Homo sapiens: one gene and its partners. The protein of the gene in region 2 interacts with the protein of the main gene of each other region in a pairwise test. Each region holds a gene or a part of one and is shown on either strand. Other genes may lie near its edges. The genes, in order: SERP2, TIMMDC1, ANKRD46, PIGF, AGR3, ARL6IP6 and PTPN1.

Evidence for each region.
Region 1: the proteins of TIMMDC1 (region 2) and SERP2 interact in binary tests that used the Homo sapiens proteins (3 or more experiments, as listed by UniProt).
Region 3: the proteins of TIMMDC1 (region 2) and ANKRD46 interact in binary tests that used the Homo sapiens proteins (3 or more experiments, as listed by UniProt).
Region 4: the proteins of TIMMDC1 (region 2) and PIGF interact in binary tests that used the Homo sapiens proteins (3 or more experiments, as listed by UniProt).
Region 5: the proteins of TIMMDC1 (region 2) and AGR3 interact in binary tests that used the Homo sapiens proteins (3 or more experiments, as listed by UniProt).
Region 6: the proteins of TIMMDC1 (region 2) and ARL6IP6 interact in binary tests that used the Homo sapiens proteins (3 or more experiments, as listed by UniProt).
Region 7: the proteins of TIMMDC1 (region 2) and PTPN1 interact in binary tests that used the Homo sapiens proteins (3 or more experiments, as listed by UniProt).

The regions. Positions count from the first base shown.
Region 1 is NC_000013.11:44,376,824-44,380,323, forward strand, and holds part of SERP2 (stress-associated endoplasmic reticulum protein 2), read left to right. Parts: intron 1-2,817; coding exon 2,818-2,890; intron 2,891-3,500. UniProt on the Homo sapiens protein: Interacts with target proteins during their translocation into the lumen of the endoplasmic reticulum. Protects unfolded target proteins against degradation during ER stress. May facilitate glycosylation of target proteins after termination of ER stress.
Region 2 is NC_000003.12:119,515,547-119,519,046, forward strand, and holds part of TIMMDC1 (complex I assembly factor TIMMDC1, mitochondrial isoform 1 precursor), read left to right. Parts: intron 1-1,658; coding exon 1,659-1,769; intron 1,770-3,500.
Region 3 is NC_000008.11:100,525,260-100,528,759, forward strand, and holds part of ANKRD46 (ankyrin repeat domain-containing protein 46), read right to left. Parts: intron 2,745-3,500; coding exon 2,586-2,744; intron 1-2,585.
Region 4 is NC_000002.12:46,589,542-46,593,041, reverse strand, and holds part of PIGF (GPI ethanolamine phosphate transferase, stabilizing subunit), read left to right. Parts: intron 1-458; coding exon 459-567; intron 568-1,116; coding exon of another isoform or gene 1,117-1,134; exon of another isoform or gene 1,135-1,895; intron 1,896-3,500.
Region 5 is NC_000007.14:16,875,484-16,878,983, reverse strand, and holds part of AGR3 (anterior gradient protein 3 precursor), read left to right. Parts: intron 1-338; 5' UTR 339-365; coding exon 366-474; intron 475-3,500. UniProt on the Homo sapiens protein: Required for calcium-mediated regulation of ciliary beat frequency and mucociliary clearance in the airway. Might be involved in the regulation of intracellular calcium in tracheal epithelial cells.
Region 6 is NC_000002.12:152,721,620-152,725,119, forward strand, and holds part of ARL6IP6 (ADP-ribosylation factor-like protein 6-interacting protein 6), read left to right. Parts: intron 1-3,500.
Region 7 is NC_000020.11:50,569,383-50,572,882, forward strand, and holds part of PTPN1 (tyrosine-protein phosphatase non-receptor type 1), read left to right. Parts: intron 1-3,500. UniProt on the Homo sapiens protein: Tyrosine-protein phosphatase which acts as a regulator of endoplasmic reticulum unfolded protein response. Mediates dephosphorylation of EIF2AK3/PERK; inactivating the protein kinase activity of EIF2AK3/PERK.

The DNA of each region.
Region 1 (3,500 bases), on a different chromosome or scaffold from region 2:
GTAGTAACTTCTCCAGAATGAAGGGGGAATTTAAATTTCAGAGTTCTGAGTTACCCTACGGGTATCTTAATCACAGGGAAAGCCATTCCCTGACATTTTTGGAGCCTCAAGAAGTAGCAAACTCATGTTTGGAGTAAACCATGTCATTTGCAGAATCACTACTAGTTTTCCCCACCTTTTCCAGCCATAGAGTAAGGTTTATGTGAATTGTCCCAATGGGATTGTGCTGGGCACCCCTTCTAAAAAGTAGTCACCCAAAGCTGTCAAAAAAAAGATATATGGGTACTATGATCAGCCAAAGTCCCCAAATCATGTTGATTCCATGGAGAATGTCATCCAAAAGGTTTTTGTGTTATATGGTCCAAGCTCTACATGCTGATCATCTGTTTTTTCTGCATATGAAAAATAAAGGACTCTATTTGGTATCTGTCCTGGGCAAGTAATTCATTACAGGCTTCTGAATTCACTTATTAGCTTTGCTGGAAATAGAGATAAAATGAATTTTTTTATATAGCATCAGTGGCACAACAGCAACAGAACTGGTTTCTGGGCAACTGTGACAAGTTCCTGGGAAGGTGGTGGAAGAGGGTGGGAAGGGCGAATGTCACACTTTGTTCAGGTAGCTTTATGAATGTTGTTTACCGGATCTGAACTTGGCCTGGCCTTAAGGGCCAAAAAATGGCACAGTTATCTTATGCAATTATTTAAGACTGATCTTGTCCTCGTCTGATTAAGAGCAGCCACCGATTCCTTTGCAGTGTGACTTGCCGGCATGTAAGTGGTGGTAGATACAGGCTTAGTCAAGGACAGAGAAGTGAATGTCTTAATCCTTAGTCAAAGTCTACCTGCCGTTGACACTTTAATCCATATTTCTCATGTAGGAGAGATACAGGGATAATCCTACACCAATTAGGAATTATTACTAAAAAGACAATATCCTTCCTAGAACCTGTGTTTACTCTGCCTAACCTAAGAAATCTTATTTAATGAAACTTGTATGTTTATTTGTTCTTTGATGAACGTTTATTATCTCCTATGTTTAAGTTCTGTGGCAGGCATTTCTATATATTACTACATGAACAAGACATAGTCCCTGCCCTTGTGGGGTCTGTAGTCTCATAGAGAGACAGATATTAAACACATTAATTATCACAAGAATAAATATAGACCTACAAACTGTGACACATGCTATCAAGAAAAAGTATGTGGCCATACAAGTGACGAGTGGACCCAAGTGAGGTAAAAGAGAAGGGCTCTTTGGTAAGCTGAAAACTAAAGAACTGTTGCCTTATCTATGATAAAATAAATTCCTTTTTTAGATGAGAAGCCAGTTTACATTTACATTAGCCTAGAACTTAATTTTACATATAAATACAACACATCATAGATTTTACAGTTTTAATATATGATAAATTTTCTAGGAAAGCAACTACAGTGAAAATCAAAGGAAGATTATCCTTTTTTAAAGAAGTTTTTGTTAGAAACATTACTAAAACTTGTTCAACATTTCAAAAACTTACATCCTTGATGATAGCACCACTCGTTTTTTTTGAAACACTATTACATACCTTCAGTCTGAATGTCAAGCTGTGGTATTTGTATGGATATGAACATACCTTTTAGCCCATATTTTACAATGTTGAATACAATGTTTAAATGTCAACAACATTTAATTGAAATCTGGAATTGGGTTTTATGAGATCAACCACAAATCAATACTTGTGAACATTCCACTCTACCAACACGTTTTTCTTTGTGTGTTTTGCATGTGAATTCTTTAACGTGTGTTGAATGCAGCCTATTTTTCAAGCTAATCAGAAAATAATTAGTGAGTTCTTTGTTGTTGTTTTTTTTTTCACTCTCCCATTCTATTTGAGAAATTCACTTCTTTTCTGATGCATCTCTCAGAAAATATTTGTTGTTCTGACTGATTTGGGTTTAAGGACCAAGCCCTACCTGCACATAGACCTGGAGGTGTTGTGGAGGGAAGATCTTATTATGTCTGTGCTTTTGGTTTGAAAAAGCAGGAGGTCTGTAGGGCTTCATTCATGCAGTTTTGACAGTCCCCTTCTGCTTCCCAGAGAATTCAGAGACTTCTCCCAAGTGCAAGCTTTATTAAGGCTTAGGAGCTTTATTACAAAATGCTGCTTCACTCATAACCATTCACAATTGCTGTGGTGCTTCTGTTGTTGCAAGGATTTCCACTGTACTGACTTCCTAATTTGGGGTTATGTAAAAGGTTTTCAGAAAATGTCTGTGCTCTCTGATCCTGCTTGGAATTCACAGATGCAAAAACTAAATATTGAATCTGTTAATGGAAAATACTCAGGCTTTATAATGAGGCAGACCTAAATTTGAATCCCAGCTCTTGCTCAAGTTAACAAACTTTGAGCCTCAGTTTCTCAACTCCAAAATGGAAATAATAATACTTGCCAGAAATAATGAATGCAGACTGCCTAGTGTAGTGCCTGGCACAGAGCATTACTCAGCAGATGGAAAGTTATTATTAATATCATTTTGGTTCCTAAATCGCCATATTGGTTTATGTATTCATACCATATCTGTCCCCAGAATATTTAAGACCACCAAGTTCACTGAGTTACAGGGATGTTAATAAGGTTATGGATGAATTTTTACAAACCTGTCTCAATCCTTTTAATGGACTTCATTCATCTATATCTGTCCACTGAGGGATTGAAACCAAGTCTGTCTCATTCGCAGTAGAATCCCCAGCACCTAGCACAATGCCTAGTGATACTCAAATAATTGTTTATTGAGTCAATGAACCTAATCTTACTTTTTCCCATTCCCTTTTAGAGGCCGCAAGAGGAGAAATATCCTGTGGGACCATGGCTGTTGGCACTGTTTGTTTTTGTTGTCTGTGGCTCAGGTATGGGTGTTTCACTGAACTTATATCCCATGTTCTCCACTGGCCTTTGAAAAACACACGTTTTCTTCACAAAGCAAATAGATGAAAAACATACTGGTATGGGATTCAAGTTTATCACTGCCTTAAGCCTTAATCTTAATGGGTTTTGATTTAGTTTCTATTCCAAATATAGGTAGAGACACAATTAATACACTATCAAATCCTAATCATAAAATGATTACACTGAGTAGTTAAAGTGGCTGTATACACTGTAGAGTTCAGTAAAGTCTTTTTGTGCAGACATAGCCTTAAAAGGGCATTAGAACAGAAGGTGAAACACCTGTGTGCCTGTGATAAATCCACATTCCGAGAAAGGGAGAGGCCTTATGCCTTATGAGAAAGTTCTGCAGAGCTCCTAGATACAACTTCCTAGATACAACTGAGCCTTTGACCCAAGCCTTAAGGTATGGGTCACCTGATACTGTAAGGTGGCAAGTTGAGAGCTTTACTTACACACATGCAGATACACACATACACACAAATGCAGGGAAGATGAGCAGAAGCATCGTGCCATTGTTTCTAGTTACATGCTGAACTAGCCTTGACATGGTTCCTGATCCCCATATGTTGG
Region 2 (3,500 bases):
AATATAATCATGGGCATAATATATTCACAGTTGAGGGATTAGGCAGGATATTTGGGGGGACCACTTTAGAATTCTGCCTACCACACTTGGTTAAGGTGTTATCTGTTCAGTGTCTCCATTGCAAAGATATCTTTTTCCCAATGTGATTAATTAGTAATCTGGAGGGTGAAACTGAATATTCTGCTCTCCAGCTATCTTTTCATCATGTGTTTTTAATGATCCATTGACGACCCATGCTGTAATCGGTTGGTTACTAGAAAGGTGGTTGTAAATGTTGATAAGCTAGTTCTGTCAGTTCTTCTGTTTTTATTAGTTGGTATTTGTCTGACTAGAAGAGTGCTACCTTCGTCCTCCACCTGTTCACCCCTTTGTCTACCTCCTTTGAAGGAGAAGGTAATGCTATAGATTTAATGATTTTTTTAAAAATTTGAATTAAATAAAATCAGCATGTCATAATCTACTGCTGCCATTGCTTTTGTTGTAGTGTTAATATACCAGTTTGGTTTGAAGGGAAAAGTTGTAGGAGTTAGCAACAAAAATATTTTTTATTGTGGTAATAAACACATAGCATAACATTCACCATCTTAATCATATTTTAAGTGTATAGTTCAAAAATGCTAAGTATATTCACATTGTGCATGAGATCTCTAGAACTTTTTTATCTTGAGAAATGAAACTATATGCATTAAAAACTAATTTCCCCTCCCCATACCCTCCAGCCCTCAGCAAATATATTTCTACTTTCTGTTTCTAAGATTTTGACTACTTTAGATACTTCATATGAGTGGAATCATACACTATTTGTCCTTTTGTGACTAGCTTATTTACTTAGCATAATAATGTCCTTGAAGTTTATCTATGTTGTAACCTGTTGAACGGATTGCCCTCTTTTTTAAGGCTGCATAATACTCCATTGTATGTGTATGTTACATTTTCTTTAACCATCTGTCAGTGAACATTTATGTTGCTTCCACTTAGCAAAAATAGTTATTAGTATGAGGTTACTTAAATTGTAGCTGGAGGAAATTTAAGGTGTATGAAGGTCAAATACTTCTAGTCTGAGAACACAAGAACCAAACTCTCTTCATCACTATAATAATTATTATCTAAATCAGTTTCTCAATGGGTTGCTATTGGCATTGTGGGTGAGACAGTTACGCCAGACTCTTGAACTTCAGGATATTTTGGTGGTCCCACCCCCAAAAGCCAGTAGCATCCCTCCCTCAACCAGAAATGCCCTCCACATTTCCTGTCTCCTAGAGGAGCTGGTGCCATTCTGAACTAGAAATTTCATTTTTGAGAAATCTTTGGTGTGGGGCTACTTACTAGAACTTGTCATAAATATATATATTTTTCCTCTTTGTTTTGATTTATTTCTCATTCCTCATAAAAACAGCCAGTTTCTAGATCTGTTGTTTTATTATATATCAGTTAACTTTAGGAGGTTGTAGTGATTGTTTTTGTCTGTTGTTCAGACCAAGGAAGAGATTACCTCAATGTTTTTCTTTATTTGACAAGGACACTTTAATTCTCAAATGTTCCTGTACCTAATAGTGAACAAGTGGCTCTGGTGTTGCTCACACCTTAGCAGAGAATCTCACATGTTGCAAGGTCTAATGACTCGTTTTTCCTAAGCTTTCCCTCTCCTTTCTTCTCAGCACTCCTGTAGGAGGCCTGCTGATGGCATTTCAGAAGTACTCTGGTGAGACTGTTCAGGAAAGAAAACAGAAGGATCGAAAGGCACTCCATGAGCTAAAACTGGAAGAGTGGTAAGGAACATGTTGAGCCCAGGGAATCTTGGCTCTCTTGCCCCAGGCCTTATATAGTGGTGCTCTTTTAAACTTATGTACTCTAAACTGCCACTCAATTCAAAGAAGAGTTTATTTTTACCAAGTCCTTCAACTCATACTGTACATTGTCTTTTAATCTATTTAAGGAGAATGGAAAAATGAAAGAGATTGATTTTAGTTTTAATTTAATGAAGATCTTTCTTTGGATATCTTTTTAAGTTAAAAGTGGTGTAAATCTTGCTTGCATGTTTTTTCTTTTCCTGTGTTCTTAACTGCATAGGAAATTACCTAAAGGGAATATTCACCAAGGAGTGAGCTTTACCTGGCTTACTTAAAAAGTGACATCCTTAGCCTAGCAGGGTGGCTCATGCCTGTAATCCCAGCACTTTGGGAGGCCAAGACAGGTGGATCACCTGAGGTCAGGAGTTCGAGACCAGCCTGGCCAACATGGCAAAACCCCATTTCTACTAAAAGTACAAAAATTAGCTGGGCATGGTGGCACGTGCCTGTAGTCCCAGCTACTCAAGGAGGCTGAGGCAGGAGAATCACTTGAACCTGGGTAGCGGAGGTTACAGTGAGCCGTGATTGTGCTCCAGCCTGGGCCACAGAGCAAGACTCGGTCTCAAAAAAGAAAAAAAGTGACTTTTTTTTTTTTTTTTGCATACATATGTAAGTAAGACACAGCATGTTAAGTCTCCACAAAAATTCTATTTCTTGCTGTAGATGCAGAGGAATTAGGTGGACAATGGTTGTTCATGCACTGAATGCCACTGAGGAACATGAAAACTTTCACCTATTGCATCTAATCATCTCCTGGGATGCAATTTGTGGGATAGGGCAATCAGACTGATAGCTGACTTTGCACAGATTCAATATGTAAGATGAATATAACAGGCTGCCATCTAGTGCTCCTGAGTACAAATGATTTTCACTAGTTCACCTTCCTGGGTACCTAAGACAGCATTGGCTGCTGCTGCTGTTGCTGTTTTGGTATTATAATTGGATAGATGAGAAATCATTTTTTTCCAGTGTTTTCATTTGAAACCTCCATTTCTGCTAACCACACACACACAGACACACACACGGAAATTCTTAAGAGCTGTAGGTCCATCATCCAAGGACTTAAGTGCTATATGAGAAGAAAAGCATTGAGGTTGCAGTGAGCTGAGATTGCGCCACTGCACTCCAGCCTGGGCCACAGAGCAATACTTCATCTCAAAAAAAAAAAAAAATTAAAAAAGTAAATGAAACATTAAAAACTGCAGAAGTTTGTCAGTGATTTAGAGATCAGTGATTTTGAGATGGAAAAGCTTAAGAATGGCTGGCTATGGCCATTCTAAGGTCATTCACCTGGAGTCTTCCACCACTGGCAACCCTGCCAATTCTAGTGGCTGAGCTGCCACGTGCACCCCCTGAAGACTGGCTCATCCAGGGTCCACTGCCACCATTTACCTCCCCCCATCAGTTTAACAGCAGATTTGCCAGCAGAAACCTTACAAGTCAGGAGAGAATGGGATGATACATTCCAAGTGCTAAAAGGAAAAAACAAACAAACAGACAAACAAAACCCAAAAAACTCCTGCCAAGAGTATTATACCTAGCAAAGCTATTTTTCCAAAATGAAGGAGAAATAGTCTTCTCAAGACAGGCAAACACTGAGGGAATTTATCACCACTAGACTGCCTTATAAGAAATGCTTAAAGAACTCCT
Region 3 (3,500 bases), on a different chromosome or scaffold from region 2:
TAATTCACATCCCATAATATTTACCTTTTGAAACTGTACAATTCAGTGGCTTTTCATATATTCCCCAAATTGTACAACCATCTCTTCTAATTCCAGTACACTTTCAGCACCTCTATAAGAAACTCTGTACCTATTAGCAGTCACTCCCATTGCCCCTTCTCCCAGCTTCTAGTCTACTTTCTCATCTACTTTCTGTCTCTATGGATTTGCTTATTCTGGACATTTCACATAAACAGAATCATGTAATATGTGGCCTTTTGTGCCTGGCTTCTCCAATGTAGCATGTTTTCAAAATTTATCCATGCTGTAGCATGTATCAGTATAATATAATAATATTAGTAATATTCCATTGGATGAACAGATGATGTTTATTCCTTCATCAGCTGATGGATATCTGGGTGGTATCAATGTTTTGGCTATTATGAATAATGCTGCTATGAACATTCATATATAAGTTTTGTGTGGACATATGTTTCAATTTTCTTTGGTATATTCCTAGAAGTGGCACTGCTGGTCAGATGGTAACTCTACGTGTAGCTTTTTGAAGGACTGCCAGACTTTTCCAAAGAAGCTGCTCTACTTTCCATTCCCATCAGCAGTGTATGAGGGTTCCAATTTCTCCACATCCTCCAGAGCACTTGTTATTATCTATCTTTTTAATTGCAGCTATCCTAGTGGGTGTGAAGTGGCATTTCACTATGGTCCTCATTTGCATTTTCCTAATGACATTACCTTTCAACTTTCTGATTTAAGCTTCAACCACTGAATTTCTACCATGACACTGAGGGGTAGGAGTAAGATAGGAAAACTAGGTAATAAAAGTGTTAATAACTCAATTTTTGAAAAACGAGCTTTATACAGTGTTACAATTAATACAAACTCTCATGCTGCAGTGAAATGGCAGGTATGTGAAGGAAGCAGGAGTACTTCCACTGCTCATCCAATGGAATATTATTTTGTACTTATCACTTCTTAGTAAGTAATCACAACTGAGGCAAACTAATGCTAAAAGTATATTTCTAATAAAAGGGTGCCAAGAAACTGGCTATTAACAAAATAAAGATCCTAAAAATATACCAAACAAGAACACATTCTTGGTTGTTTTTCATGGTAAAGAAGCTTAAAGTACTTAATGTTATTTCATAAAAAGATAAAAATAAATTTCAAGTTATCTTAGAGGAAAAAATCTTTAACAAATAATAGTTAACTCAATATTGTTAAAGTGCTTATGCCATTCTGTCAATCCAAAGTACAGAGGAGAGAAAAACAAGGGCTTGCAAATACATCTCTGACTTCTTGATTATCTATTTGTCAGCTTTCAGTGATCACTCAAGAGGAGTATGCACTGTTCCAGAAGTAAAGCTCTTGGATTTCTTTAGGACTGTATTAAAGTGCTTGAAAGTATCTGAACAAAATAGACCTAAGCTTGAGAGTGGAATTAATGGTCCCCAAAGAGCACATCATCTGGCACACGAGAGGAGGAAAGCAAAAATGGGTACAAAGGAATCAAATGAAGGGTAAGCTATGAAAAACAGAGAGGATTTCATTTAGAACTCACAGAAACAATGATCCCAATGGTCTAAGTGGATTATGTGATTCTAAATCCAAGTCCTAGTCCATCAGCTACTAGGTAAACAGCTGATGTGGGCCCTTGCTTATTCTATTTACAACCTACCGAGAATACTGGGAAGAGGCTATGGAAGCTCAGCATCCTTTTTCCTTCACACGTATAATGTGGAAGGCTGAAACTGCATGGTGGTCAACCAGATAATATGCTACTAGAACTAAGTCTGGCCTATTAACTTTACCTGTTGAGCCCAGTGACATCAGGAGAAAAGATGGTGCGCCACCTTTTTGGAGCTCTCTGAACTGCATTCTCCATTGCTTCTAGATGAGAAATGATGAGCTATTCAAGACCCTGTCAGTTACCACATCTTAGCTTCGATTACTCACAGGAATCCAAATTTCATTAGCTCCAACTCATATGAAAGTCACTTTCACTTTCACATTACTGAACTGTGCATGTGTTAAATACTATCTTGCTTTCCCTCTCTTGTTTTCTTGTTTCTCAGCATTCCACTTCCCTACCCTTGAAACTACCTTTCAGTCTTTTCTAAAATTGCCCAAGTTCTTGGCTTTACTTATACTTCTCTTTTTTTTGAAATTCCATTCTTTTTGTGACCTGTACTTAAAATCATCAAGCTCCGGCTTCCTCCCCTCAGATTCATTTGTTACTATTTCTCCTTTGTACTGTCAATACAGCAGGTGGCTAACAGAACATTATGCGCACATGACATGTAGTACTTTCTGTTAATAGCTTCTCAATTGTAATCTGCAGTCATAAGGTCCTATATAAAGTTCAAGTTGCACTTAAAAGCAAATGAATATTAAAGTTCACAAAGTTAACCATAAATCCACATACTTAAAGTGACTTTCCCCTTAAAAAATCGTATTATCTTGCTGGGTGTGGCTACATGTGCCTATAGTCCCAGCTAGTCAGGAGGCTGAGGCAGGAAGAATGCTTGAGCCCAGGAGTTCAAGGAATGAGTAATACAGTGAGAAAAAAAAAGTTGTATCTCCAGTACCTTTCACTCTCAGCTGTTTGCATGGTCTCCAGTTTCGAGTGGGTTCCTCTGTTAAATCCTTTCACCTCCTGTTCTTCCAAAGATTCCAGCAATCGGATGACATCTTTATTTACTCCTCTGCGCTTTGCCAGAACTAAAGGGGTAGCACCTTGATGATTGCTAAAAAAAAAAAAAAAAAAAAAAGTTTATAAAAATAAAGAAGCCATCATAGCAGTTATACTACATTGTCAGTTCCATTTTTAGTACCCACTTATATAGATCTCAGTGAAGAAAGAATGGGCCCAATTAGGGCCTACCCTAGGGCTGTGGGGAACTAAAGGAGTATTTGGCTCACTACAACTCTTCCACCATGAGCCTTGACCATCTGGCTGCAATCAGATGTTGACTGATGGGATTTTTGCACAGTTCATCACAGAGGCCGTTATCCTGTTAACCAAACACGTCCCCCACCTCCAGACCCCATCCTCACACTGAATGTCTCCTCAACAGCAGATTATGGTAGAAGTAATAGCCGTGTGCCTCTATTTTTTTCTGAATTGTACTATAGAAAGTGTTTATGAAGAACAAATCACCAAGGGGAAAAAAAGGATGGGTCCAGTTTAACTCAAAAGTAAAACCCAGAGCTGAGCCAAACATCCAGTGTAGCTGAATTTTGAATTAACCCTTGTTTTTCTTTTTTTTTTTTTTTTTACTTCCAGGGAAAAGAAAAAAGAGAACATATAGTCAAAAAAGTGGATAAATCTAGTTCTAGATTCATTCTTATTTGATATTTACATTTTATGAGACAAGTACTTTTTTTAAAAAAGTCTAAGAAAAAAATGTCAAATAAGCTGCTTCGGTTCACGCAGCTATTTAGCGCTAATAATAGGTTAGAACCCCAATCACATTAAATCCTGCAGTCAATTCCTACCCCAT
Region 4 (3,500 bases), on a different chromosome or scaffold from region 2:
ATGATGCATCTGAGTTTTGTTTTGAAGAAATATACATATGTACATGTGTATTTATGCAAATGTACATATATCCTTCAAAACAAAATTATGTGTGTATTTGTGCCTGTATAAAATATTTCTGGAAGAATATGTAATAATTTAGCATAATAGCAGTTGCCTGTGGGGAAAGGAACCAGGAGTTGATGATAGGGGTGGAAGACTTAGCTGTTTCTACAAATGCTCTTTAACATGGTTTGACTCCTAGTGCGTCTGTATATTACCTTTCCAATGGAAAACATTTACATCTTCTTACCAATTAACTATTAATAGTTCATGGTAAATATGTATATGTCATTTTGAGATTTTCATTTTAAATTAGCAGGAAATATATGTATACTGATAATGTGTGCTAGTGCTTGTTGGATTCTCCAGCAGCTCATGTATATACCACCAACGATGTACCAATTTGTGTTTCACAGAGTTACATCCATATGGGAGAATAGTCTCCAGATCACTACAATTTCTAGCTTTGTAGGAGCATGGCTTGGAGCACTTCCTATTCCACTGGATTGGGAAAGACCATGGCAGGTTGGTTTCAGTTACTTAAAGCAACAAAATAAATGTTTGTACAATGATAGTAAAACAGATGAAGCAAACTAGTGTGTATATGTAAATTGTTTTGTTGTTCAATTAAGTAGGGATACCACTTCTATCAGTCACTGTAATCTGGGCAGCTTCTTAATGGGGACTGTCCAGTGCCACAGGTGTCTAGGTAGCCCTGGTTTTATCTTCTAGCACTATTTTTTGCACATGTGTAGATGAATAAACAAGCTTATTTTGTGATTGTATATAGGCGGTTTGTTTATTGTTTTTAAAAAAGACAGGTTCTCACTCTCTTGCCCAGGCTGTCCTCTAATGCTTGGGCCTAAACGATCTTCCTGCTTCAGCCTCCCAAGTGGCTGGGACTACAGGTGTGTGCCACCGAGCCCAGCCAGTATAGGAATTTTTAAAAACTAGGTTAATAGCTGCAGAAATTTCCTATTTTCAACTTTGATATTTATTGCCCTTGTGGTCTTATATTCATATTTTCTGAACTTGATTGATGGCCAAATTGAATGTTCCTCTTGAAATTTTTAGAAGCAGATAGCAAGGTAATTTTTGCAGCAGCGGCCTGTGTTATCAAGAAAGCTCACAAACATCAGATTTTTCGTCTTGTATCACAATAAGATAAAGCTGATATGCTAGGTAAAGCACTGTGAGGTAAGTGCTCTTTTTATACCCATTTTACAGATGAGGAAACTGACACCTAGAGGGTATGTAACATTCCCAAGGTCACTGAACTTACAGTGATGACTGTATCTTTATCTTAATATTAATGACTTTGTAGTATGCCATTATATACTTTATAACTTATTTAACAAATTCACTATTGATCATTTAGATTATTGCCAGTATTTTGTGATAATAAACACTGCTGTGATAAAATCTTTGAATCTATAGCTTCTTGAATTTTTCTAATTAGGTTCACAGAGTAATTACTCCCAAAAAGAATTATGGTATTAAAAAATAAATGTGCTTTCTTTTTCCAACATGAAGATAATTTTTTTCTGATCACGAAGATAATGTATATTTATTTAGAAAATTAAAGCAATATTAGTAATTCTAAGGAAGAAAGTAAAAATTACTTTCCTCCCCAACCACCCAGAGGAAACCTCCATTTGCTTTTGGTGATAATTTTTGCAGCTGTCTCTCTCCATGCCTGTAACTATAATATTCATGTTGTTTTTAATCTGCTTTTTCCCCTCAGCAGTATATTATGGAGCTCATTCTATGTCAATGAAAACTTACATATATGTAATATTCGATTATTTGTGTAAAATATTGTACCAGTTTTTTATTAAAGAACATTTAGGTCATTTCCTATTTTACTATTATTATTTTATTATCAAATATGGTCATTATCATACTTATACATCTTTGCATATTTGTCCAATTTTCTCTGTAGGGTAGAGTCCTACCTAATGAATTGATGAATTAAATCTTTGATACATACCTCATTTGCCAAATGTGGGATCCAGATTGTGTGCCTTGCACATAACTGCCTACATTTAGCTCTATTCTTTGTGCTTTCAGTTAGATGTCGTGTCTCCCCGAAAGTCAAATTGTTGTTTCATGTTTAATAGGTCTGATAGGTTTGCCCTTCCCTGTTTTAACTCTTCATCACTATATTAGAGAAATCCTTGGAGGTTTGGTGTGTGTATCGTCACAGATTCCCATCTCAAGTTTTTGGTGCTAGTAAAGGTTTCTTAAGTTGACATCTTATAGAAGTCATCCATACTTGATGTCATTCAACAGAGTGTCAGTGATTTCTAAATTGGAGGACAATCAAAATCATTGAAAAGTATACACAGAAAATTGAAACTGTGTAGATTCATTGCTATCAAGTAATGCAATTAAATCTAAATAGAAAGTATTGATAAATAAAGTACTATGGGACATTAGCTTTAATGAGTTGGTAAGATATAATAATCATTTTGTATATGATGCAATACATTAGAGTGTAAAGGTTTGATATATTACACATAATTTAAGTCTTTTCTGTTTACAAGACAGTGCAGTAGTAGAAACTGAACTAAGAGGAATGAATATATGTGCTTTATAAAATATGTGTTTAGGTTTGCTTAGAAAATATATATCTTAATTATTTACAGTTCAGTCACCCATTTTGGGATTGTTCAGGCTTTTAGCTGATGACCCATTTTTCTCCCTCAGTGCTTGTTAACAATAAGGATGAACTAGATCCAAATTGATGGTATTACTTTTTAAATTAATGTAAAGTTTCCATTTGAATTACTGACTTTTTAAAAAGATTTTCTAGGTAGCTGGAAATTAATTTAATTTTAAATCTAATTTAAATACATAACAAGTGTTGGTTTCCATTAAGAGTGTTTCATTCAGCTGGAATATTACTGGCCATGTAATTATCTTTACTATTGGGTTGTTTTTAGAATATTCCAAGTTAATGACCCACGTATTCACTGTAAACCTTTTAAATTATGAAATGTATTGTTGAGGGAATGATAGAATTGATGTATAATTAAAAATCTTTTATTCATATAGCACTCATCTGCTCCTTGCCCTTTTAGCAGTTATTTACTAATAAACTAAAGAAATGAGGTTTTTTTTTCACTTTTTATTTCCAGCAAACAAGGTTGTTTGTTTTTTTGTTATTGTTATTTTTTAATAATTCTAACTCCACAGAACAGCATCTCCCAGAGAAGCAATAAATCAGATAAGGGAATATGGCATTTTCTAAAAGTGGAGATGTTGTTAGAGCAAAATTTCATGAGAAGACAATACAGTATACACTTTATTATCTAAAATAGAACATGTATTAAGAGATTCTTGTTCTGTGTTCCTTGTAGCCCAATACCGATTTGATCTGCTTGTGGTAAAGCAAGCTTTTCTGGATTGTGTTCTGGTTTTATTTATATTCCAGTCAGAGAAACAGGAATATCTGG
Region 5 (3,500 bases), on a different chromosome or scaffold from region 2:
CAACATGATCTTATTTGAGTTTCGTCTTGTTGGTGTGAACACTACAGGGCGGTTCAGAAGCAGGCTTCGTGTGCCCTGATCCAGCTCTTTTTTAATTATACAGCACCATGCCCAGGAGGCTCAGAACATGACTTCTCACCAACTGAGCATGTACTGAGTTGATTAAGTATTTTAAAAATAAAATGTGAATGAAAGTTCTATGTGGTTGGTTATACCATGTCAAACCAAAAAAGCTGAACAGTCTGTCATCACAGTATTGGTCCAACTCTTAGCAAATATCTTCTAATAATAGCTTGAAGTAATTCACTGGATTCTGAGAATTCCTTTCTGTCATCTAGCTTCTTCTGAGAGAGTCTCTAGAAGACATGATGCTACACTCAGCTTTGGGTCTCTGCCTCTTACTCGTCACAGTTTCTTCCAACCTTGCCATTGCAATAAAAAAGGAAAAGAGGCCTCCTCAGACACTCTCAAGAGGTGCTGTAATCTCATTTTATTTTCTAAACTCAGTCATTTGGATTGCTTTTTAAAATATCTGGTGTCTTCACTCATAGTCTAATTATAAAGCAAATTCAACTAACTGAATGATTTTTGTTGTGTGTGACTTCAAAATGGATTTTTTAAAACAGAAGGAATCAGTTTATTTTAGGCAGTGAATCAAATCAACTAGCAAACAATAACATAAATTTGCATTATCTTTTGCCAAAATAATGGAGAATTGGCTCGCTGTCTATAACTTTGGTAACCAGAGTCCTAGAAAATAATGATTGATTGCTGCGTCATATTGGTGTCCTAATAGCAATTTAAGATTCCTCAAAATTTGCTCAAATTCCCAGTCCTCTATTTCCCAGTCCTCCAAAAAAAAAAAAATTGGAATAATTTTATATAAGCCTTCCCAGAAAATTATACTATACCCCAAACTCTGAGAATTCGGGGTAACTAAGTCTTTGCTATATTGACTCTGGAAGACAGTGGTTTTAGACATAATCAAGGATTGCCGGTGGCTACATGTTTAGAAACATTTCTTTTTGTACTTACTGTTTTACTTGGCCCAAGAAACAAATATATATTCATCTGTAAAGAAACATTTTATTAAAAAAAATTCTCTCTTTTTTTTTTTTTTTGAGACGGAGTCTTGCTCTGTCACCCAGGCTGGAGTGTAGTGGCACGATCTTGGCTCACTGCAAGCTCTGCCTCCCGGGTTCACGCCATTCTCCTGCCTCAGCCTCCCAAGTAGCTGGGACTACAGGCGCCCGCCACCATGCCCGGCTAATTTTTTGTAGTTTTAGTAGAGACGGGGTTTCACCGTGTTAGCCAGGATGGTCTCGATCTCCTGACCTTGTGATCCGCCCGCCTCGGCCTCCCAAAGTGCTGGGATTACAGGCGTGAGCCACCGCGCCCGGCCAAGAAAATATTCTCAAAGTTAGTTTCTATATCTCTAAGTAACAGAAGTAGGAACAGAATTATTTGTCCCCATATAGCTATTCAAAATCAGCAGTATTACCACAAAGTACTTGACCATTTGTTTGCTCCATTCATATTACCACTGCAAATAGTAGTCAAGTGCCTTGGAGTAATACTGCTAGTTTTGAATAACCAAGTGGGAACAAATAATTCTGTTCCTACCTCTGATATATATATAAAATATATATAATTATAACATACAAATTATATATTATATATACTATATATTATATATAATATATATCATAGTATACATTTGTGTTATATTATAATAAATTATATATAAATATATGCTATAATTATAAATATATATTATATAATTTCAAATTCTAAAACACTGACTTGCTTCCCAAGTACATTCATTTCTTAACAGATGTATTGAGTGCCAGCCAAGTGCTCATCAATGTTTACCTAAGCTAATTAACTCTACTTCAGTTTAACAAACACACAATCTATATATACAGAAAGTCAACATATTTTTGCAAAAGAAAGGAATGAAAAAGTTGAAATATTTTCCTAAACATAACTCTATCTCTCTGTATAAGCATAACTGTTGTAAAACAATGAGCTCAGTAGCCCTAAAGTGACAAAGACTAAACTAGTTATTGCCCTTAAAGATTTTCCATGTCTGCATTAAGCAGCACTGTGATAACTATACGTCAAGGCATCAACATTCTGTGTGCTCACTTCTAAATATTTATTTAAAACTCTTGTTGAATGTTTTGAAAAAATATATTACATTTGTATGCCCTATTTTAAACAACTTAAAGGTTCTATTATTTCAATTGATAAGAAACTAATTTAACACAGAAGATGACTGATATTAGCTGAGAACACCATTATTGAGAATTGGTTTATATTTGGCAAAGTCTTTTACCATCTATTGCTACATGGGAGATAATGGAGAGAATGAGGCTCAGAATGAATGAAGATTAAAGGTAGGGGTGAGTGGGAGAAGTCTGGATACAGTATAAAGAGTGGCATATGGAGCCCCTTAGAGCACAGGGCAGCACTAGTTAAGTAGAGAAGGCAGTAAGGAGAAAAGGAAGATTAATTAGAAAAAGGTAGAAGAAGGTTCAGGGAGAAAAAAATACACACACATAGAATGATCCAAAAAAAATCCAATTTCCTTTGAATCAGAATTGCTGAGTACCTAGTCCAGTGATTGGCGGATAGTAAATATTTAATAAATATATGTTAGATAAATGAATAAAATCTCAAAAGACAAGAAAATATAGCCAGAGATAGAGATAGGGCTAGAATTAGAGTAATGAGCAGAAGCCATGAAGTGCATTTAAACTGTGTAACAGCTTTGACCTATTGTGATTATAACAGAGTAAATAAAAAATCATTATAATGCAATATGGCTTTTCTACAGAGCTATGGACAATTTGTTGAGAATAGGGATTATATTGCTCTATGTTTGTATTCCCACTGCTTTGTGGAGTAAGTTATGCAGCAGATGTTCCTTTACTGTTTGTGGAACTAAATTGAGCAGGAGCAGAGAATAGAAATTTTCCCCACTGCTAATGCTCCATCATTGAATGATATTTGCAACAGAAGAGGGAAAATTCAGCAGAGGCCTCGTCTCACTTGCTGTTTTAGAATAACTTTTACTTAATGCAAAATGTGATGTATAGATATTGCATGTGTTCAACCAAAGTTGGAAAGAGAATCTTTCAGGATTATTACAGAGAGCAAGAGTTCCTGTTAAGATGTGGCATTAAACTAACAAGAGATGTTTTTCAATGTTAAGATTTTAAATCAGGCAAAAAAAAACAAAAAACAAAAATGTTGCTGGTGAGTATATAAAATGATGCATCTACTTTAGAAAATAACCCGGCAGCTCCTCAAAAAGCTAAATACAGAGTGACCATTTGATCAGCAGTTCCACTCCTAGGTATATACCCAAGATAAATGAAAATATATACCACTGAAAAACTTGTATATGTATGTTCATAGCATCATTATTCATAAAAGACAAAAAGTGGAAACAACCCAAATATCATTAACTGATGAACAGATAAATAAAATATGGT
Region 6 (3,500 bases), on a different chromosome or scaffold from region 2:
TTGATGTGATCACTTTAAATTAAATCATTTGATTTGATCACTGTAGATAGGTGGTTGAGACACTATGACACATGTCCTCCCCTCTCCCATTCTTTCCTAAACTCTCTAATCTACCACTTTATGGCTAATCACCCTTATGGTGACACTAAGTATAGTGTACCTTATTTCAGCAGAAGGGGAAACATGAACCCTTTATCTTCAAATTGCAAAGAAGTTGGTTTCTTAGATATTGCATGGAAACTTTTGTCTGTTCTTGTCAACATCTTGCATGAGAAAACATACTTTTTAGTTACTCATTTTATCAGTGTATGTTTTTACATTGTTTTATCTCTAGAAATAAGCCAAGATTATTAGGCTTCTCAGAGCTTTTATTGATCTGTCACCTCTTGATGCAGTGGAAACAGAATCTTATGAATTAGGCATGAATTCTAAACCTTTTGCTGTTTAAAAGTTGTCCTGATTTCTCATTTAGGAGTAGAATGACGGGCAGTTGTTATCTGAAGGAATGGCTTGCTCAATATCAAAAGGAATGTGATAGGTCTTTTGACATGGTCCTGCTTCCTTTTCCACTTAGGGTTAAATAATCCCATGTTGCTTTTAGGTATGCATGATAGATACTTAATATTTTTACAGCAAATAGGAAAATCATTAAGATTTTGCTAATGGCATGAATTTATTGTCAAGAGTCAGGAATGAGCAGAAAGTGTTGTATCTTTATGGTGAAAAAAACCCAACAGCTATGCCAAAACAAAGCTCATTATTTTGAACCAATGGTCAGATGAGCTCCAGTGGTCAGATGGAGAATAAAAATAGTTAATATCATTTAATGGGCTAATTCAATCAGTTTCCTGGGGGTTAATTTTAAAGAATAGTTATAGCAGATGTATGTATTATAACATATGGATAGAGAATAGTTGTCTCTACCAGAAGAGGATTCTTAAAAATCTGTTTCAGTGAAACAGGGCCAAGATGATTAAGCTCTTAATAAGATTGAGGTGATCGGCCACGCGCGGTGGCTCACACGTATAATCCCAACACTTTGGGAGGCCGAGGCGGGTGGATCACTTGAGGTCAGGAGTTCGAGACCAGCCTGAACAACATGGTGAAACCCCGCCTTTACTAAAAATACAAAAACAAAATTAGCTGGGCATGGTGGCACAGGCCTGTAATCCCACCTACTCGGGAGGCTGAGGCAGGAGAATCACTTGAACCGGGGAGGTGGAGGTTGCAGTGAGCCAAGATTGCGCCACTGCATTCCATCCTCAGCAACAGAGCAAGACTCCAACTCAAAACAAAACAAAAGATTGAGGTAATTGTGGCAACACCTGCCTTTTTTTCTAAGCTGCAATTCTCTACTGTTTTCAAGAAAAATACAAGTTAGCCTATTTACAGAATGTTTTGAATTGACTCCTGTCCTCTGGTTAAAACTCCTCTTGAGATAATTGATAGCTGAAAAGGTAGGATGGTTCTCTCAAACTTGACTTCCATCTAAATCAACGCTGAGTTGATTAACTTAGATATCAAGAAAAATTGCCTCATTAGTTTACCCCTGAGGAGATGCCTATGAAGTTACATCCTTTTTACAATTAATAAGACAGTTTTCACATGAAGAAACAATTTGAAATATTTAATAAGAAAATGTGTTGAAGTCATCCATTACGTTTGGGAAAAGTACCATGCAGCCTTTTATCAGATGATAACGATTTTATTATATTTCACTATTTATTTTGCCCTGTTTATTAGGAACCTCGTAGCCAAATGTAATAATGTTTGATTGTTTTGTATATTACTCTTTATTTCTTGGCATACTTATTATTGCCCACACATGCTATTATCTTAATATTTCCGTGACTCATATTTAAAATTTACTGCAAATTTCCTCATTCTTTGTTTGAAAGTAGGTTGGTTTTTAGAAAAAGCAACGTGAGCACAGTAACTGCTCTACCATGAAAGAGTTCTCTTTCTTTTTCTAGACAGACTGACAAAAATTTTGTACACTGCAGAATTTAATTGCAATTTAATCCTAGTCCAAGATTGGCATGGCAGTCAGTAAGAACAGATTATAGCAGCAATTCTCATTTTGGTATGGGTAACAATCACTTGGGGACTTGCTTTTTTAAAAGCACCTGTAGATTTTGTTTTGGCCATCATGATTTCGTGATACAGAACATTAGAAGTGTTAAAAAAAGTCCAAGAGAAAGGATGTGTGGGAGGTGGCCCATTCTCTTAAAAAGACACAAGTTGAGTAAAACTCAGTTTCATCCTTACAATGAAAATTGATTGAAACTCTGAACTTGAACTTTTTAGCCAGTGTGTGGACTTTATAATTTGAACCTATACTCTATTAAGAAAGTGTTACAGTGCTATCTGTGGCTGGGTGGGGTAGCTCTAATATTTCATCTAAAAAGTCACAAATATCCTATTCTATAGCACAATTTTTGTAAAATTGTCTTACCTATTTGTATTATTCAAGAAATGATGACTAAGGCCAAAAAAAAAAAAAAAAAAGAGAGAAAGCCAAAAAGGACTGGAAGGATATAATCAAAATGTTAGTTTATCTGGGTTTCCGAATTGATTGGTTGTATTTATTATTTTTATTTTCTACAATGTATAAGTGTAACTTGCAATAAGAAAAACTTTAAGGGAAAGCACAAATTTAAGTTTAGAGAATAATGTTTCAGTAATTAACAATAACACCATTTATTGCACTTTTACAATATGCCAAAAGCCATTAATTTGTGTGTTATTTCCTCTAGTATTCTCAACTACACTGTATCCATCAATGTTATTTTCTTCTAAACCAAAACTCAAGAAAGTATGTATTATAATTTTTATACCATAGATAGTCTAGGTAGTATAGCAAGGCAGAAAAAGAATGGGTTATCAGCAAGAATTAGCCATGTGCAGCTAAATTATTAGTCATGAAATTATTACAGGACTCTTCTTAACACATAAAAGCAGTAATAAGAACCAGACATTAGGACCCCTAAATCTCAATAAATTGAGTTGACATTGTGTGGTACTCTGTAGTCCAACTTTGGTGGTTGGGAGGGACGTTTCTTAGGCTAATGAAGTCAAAAGTTAGCTGGCATCAGAATCACCTGAAAGATAAATTTTGCTGCTCTTCACATGGTGCAGAATATCTGACTCAGTAGTGTGAGATGGAGCCCAAGAATTTTCATTTTTGACAAGTTTTGAGTTGATGCTCTGCATGCTGCTAGTTAGGGGGCTATATATACTTTGAACACCACTGGCCTAGTAGTTCCCAAACCTGACATAAAAAAAAAAGCAAAAAAACGAAGACCCTGGAGATTTTCTTTTTTTGCTTTTACGGAATCTTAGACCCTATAATTATCTACTGAATCGAAGTAACTTAATTGGCTGTATGTGTCAGTGTACACTGTACAATCAGGGCTCATTGGACCATTTTTCATTTCTGAATTATTTCGAGCAGTTCTGTTTGTAAGGATTGAAATTTCATGACTTATTCTTTCTTAGGG
Region 7 (3,500 bases), on a different chromosome or scaffold from region 2:
ACTTGCAGGCACCCCTGGACGGCTGCCCCCAGCTCCCCAACTGCCTGCATTCTCCCCTGCCCTCCTCACTCTGTTGGAATAGCTGAGAATAGCCGATTTCTGGGCAGCCGGCCTCCTGTGTAGACTGTCCTGTGTAGACTGTCCTGTGTAGATTGTCTGTGTAGACTGTCCTGTGTAGATTGTCTGTGTAGACTGTCCTGTGTAGACTGTCCATGTAAACTGTCCTGTGTAGATTGTCTGTGTAGACTGTCCTGTGTAGACTGTCCTGTGTAGATTGTCTGTGTAGACTGTCTCTGTAGACCGTCGTGTATAGACTGTCCTGTGTAGACTGTCTCTGTAGACCGTCGTGTATAGACTGTCCTGTGTAGACTGTCTCTGTAGACCGTCCTGTGTAGATTGTCTGTGTAGACCATCCTGTGTAGACCATCCCATTTAGACCATCTGCCTGTGCAGGCGCAGGCCAGTGTTCAGCAGGGCCACAGGCTCCTCGGCCTCCCTGCCCTCGCTGCTCCCCAACACTGCCAACCCTGCTGCGGGGTCCAGGAGGAGATGGGCTGAGGATCGTGGAGACCAGCAGGAGCGTGTGGCCCAGGAGCAGGGAACTGGGTGTCCTTGGGCCTTGCCAGGTCCAGGCTCAGCTAGGACACGGCTCTCACAGCTGTCCTGGTTGCCTCCGGCCACAGAAGAAGGTGAGGGCTCCAGAGAGGCCACCTTTCCAAAAAAAGCACAGTCATGGCCCTAGAATGTAAAAAATCCAAGTGTTAAGAAGGAACACATCAAAGGAAACTTCAGCAGTGAAAACTTGAAGCATTAACCACGAAGCCTCTGCCTCCACCACACACAAAGAAACGGCTTTAGTTACTCGCAGAAAGTCTTCCTCTTAGGACAGCGCGTGTTTAAAATCATAGGGGTTTGGTTTGTTTTGTTTTGGGGTTGGGGTTTTTTGGGGGTTTTTTACCCTTGCCTACTTTTTAAAAAATGAAAGTGTTTATTTGCCCAACAATAACAGACAGGGAGCTTGCCTAAGTGTTCTGTTGATGATATAATGTATCTTGTCTTAGAAAAAAACTTTTTCAGTGAAAGGTGGTTTTTAAATTTTTTCTTCCCTCCTTAGTAGCTTGATTAGTAAAATGTGAAGTTACAAATGTGAAGCAAACCCCCACCCTTCACCACTAGTCAGCAATTTTGAGTAAAGAAACAAAGCATCAGGTGCTCACAGCACACACTGTCTTAGAGGGAAGGGGAAGCCTGGTGGCCTGTGGAAGCCTTCAGCATAGCTCCATCTGCAGGCTTCTGACCCTCAGCACTACTGACACTTGGGCTGGATCATTGTCTGCTAGGGATCCGGGCAGGGAGTGGCTGTGCTGGGCGCTGTAGGAAGTTTAGCAGCATCTCTGGCCTCTATCCACCAGATGCCAGTAGCACCCCCTCCCCAGATGTGGCAGTCAGATGTGTTTCTGTCTAGACTCCAGACTTTGTCCAACGTCCCCTGGTAGGCCAAATTGCCCCCGGTTGAGAACCACCGCTCTAGATGGTATTGAGGGTTGGGAATTTTAAATCAAGACATTTATTCAGAAATTACCAGATATAGTAGCATTTGCTTCTTATTTATTTCTTTGTTGCTAAGTGTTTGGCAAAACCTCTTTGCTGTGAGCACAAGGTTTGCTTTAGCAATTGTTGTCACATTACAGCAAGGAGTGGTGTCCAGCGCTGTAGTTATGTATTTGAGCAGTGTCCAGTGCTGTAGTTATGTGTTCCAGCCTCACCAGGCCCTGTGCTTCATTGTCTCCCACTCAAGACTGACCACAAATGGCCCACAGATCCACTGTGACAACCTTTCCCTTTGGGTTACTGTGGTGGCATCGAGAACATGGCTGGTTGGCTTTGCTGTAGTTTACTGTGATAACTGTGCCAGCAGTCCCTGCTTTCCTTTGTTAAGTATCCCATTCCACTGGAGGATTACTTGGGCGTGCAGATTGGCATGAAAAGCAATGTATGGTTTGAGATTGTTAAAGTTTCTTTGGGATCAACATTTTCAATTCTGTATCAGCATTATCCCTCCCAGAGGGCTGGCTGGGAGAAATCATGAGAAGTTACAGTATCTTATTTGCTCAGCTAATCTAATTATAAATGATCCACACAGCTTGTGGTAAAACCAGCTTTTGGGGAGTTTTCATTTAATGCATACTTGTCTTCTGATTTCCTTCCTTCACCAAATAGTGTAGGATGCTCCCTCTTATTTTTGGCAAACATGCCTGTTATCTTTTGGGACCCTGGGCTTCCTGGAAACCAGTTATGCAGAAGATGATTGTGTGTGTTAGACTGGGGTCATCCAGATGGCTAGAGTTCTCACTGGTTCTGTTTAAGGATTGACTTTAGACACCTCAGTGTAGGCTGCACCATGGCGTAAGGGTTGGGATTGTTGTTTAGAAGGGGGAAGTAAGCAAGGTGAGTTTAATTGGCCATTGCAGAATCTCACCCGTATCTCCCTCCTGAAATCCTCACTAAAGCTGCCGTTTGCTTTCAGGTGCTTTCATGCACAAGACACTGCATTTTGTATCACAGGGTCCATATAATTCATTTTTCTCTCGTACTTAGTTCTCTGTGTTAAGAATTACTTACTTAGTTCTCTGTGTTAATAATTTTTGGCGAAACCAAATTACCCGTCACAGGGTTACTGTAGATGTCTTTCATAGGTTTTCCAAACACCACTTGCCCACTTGTTTGGGAAGGCCCCAAGGACTGTTTAACATCTGCCTTCATGGTGGAAACAGCAACTATGAGAGATGCTAGCATGTTGGCACTGCCATGTTCCTCTGGTACCAGCCCAAGATAGGACTCAATTTGAGGCCTGGTGAAGTACTGTGTTCTAATAAAAATCCATCTACTTTTCATGGCCGTATATATCAATGTAATAGGGTAACTGGAAATGTGATCTTGTGCCTTTTAAAAATTTTGTGTGTTTAAAACAAAAATTTCTATTGGAAATGACAGAGCATAGCTTGTTGCTGTAGACACCTGAGAGTCCTTAAAAATAAATATTGGGTTATTGACACTTAGTTGCATGACAGAATTCCTCACTTGTACAGTTCCAAAGTCTTAGTCTTTACCCAGATTACAGAGGGTTATTAAGCATTAGGTTTGGTTTTGAAAGTGAGTGCTTGCTGTCTGGAGGTGAGCTTTAAGACTCGTCTGCCCTGCTTATGAGATGAGGAAGGGTGGCCTCTTCCTCCTGCATTTCTGTTCTTCGCTTCCTTCTCTGTCTGCTCACTCTGTGGAATGCCCACCCCAGCACGGGTGGGGTGGAACCTGTCAGATCAGTCTCTTGTTTCTGGGGTCTTGAGGCATTATAAGATCTAGTTGTTAGAAGTGTGGGATTAATTCATCTTTTCACATTCTTCTAAGTTCCTGCTTTTAGCTGCCACACCCACTTTGGCTAAGTGGGGGTCTTGCCATGTAATTAGCGCCTCCATGCCAAGTGGCAGAATTGCTTCAATGGT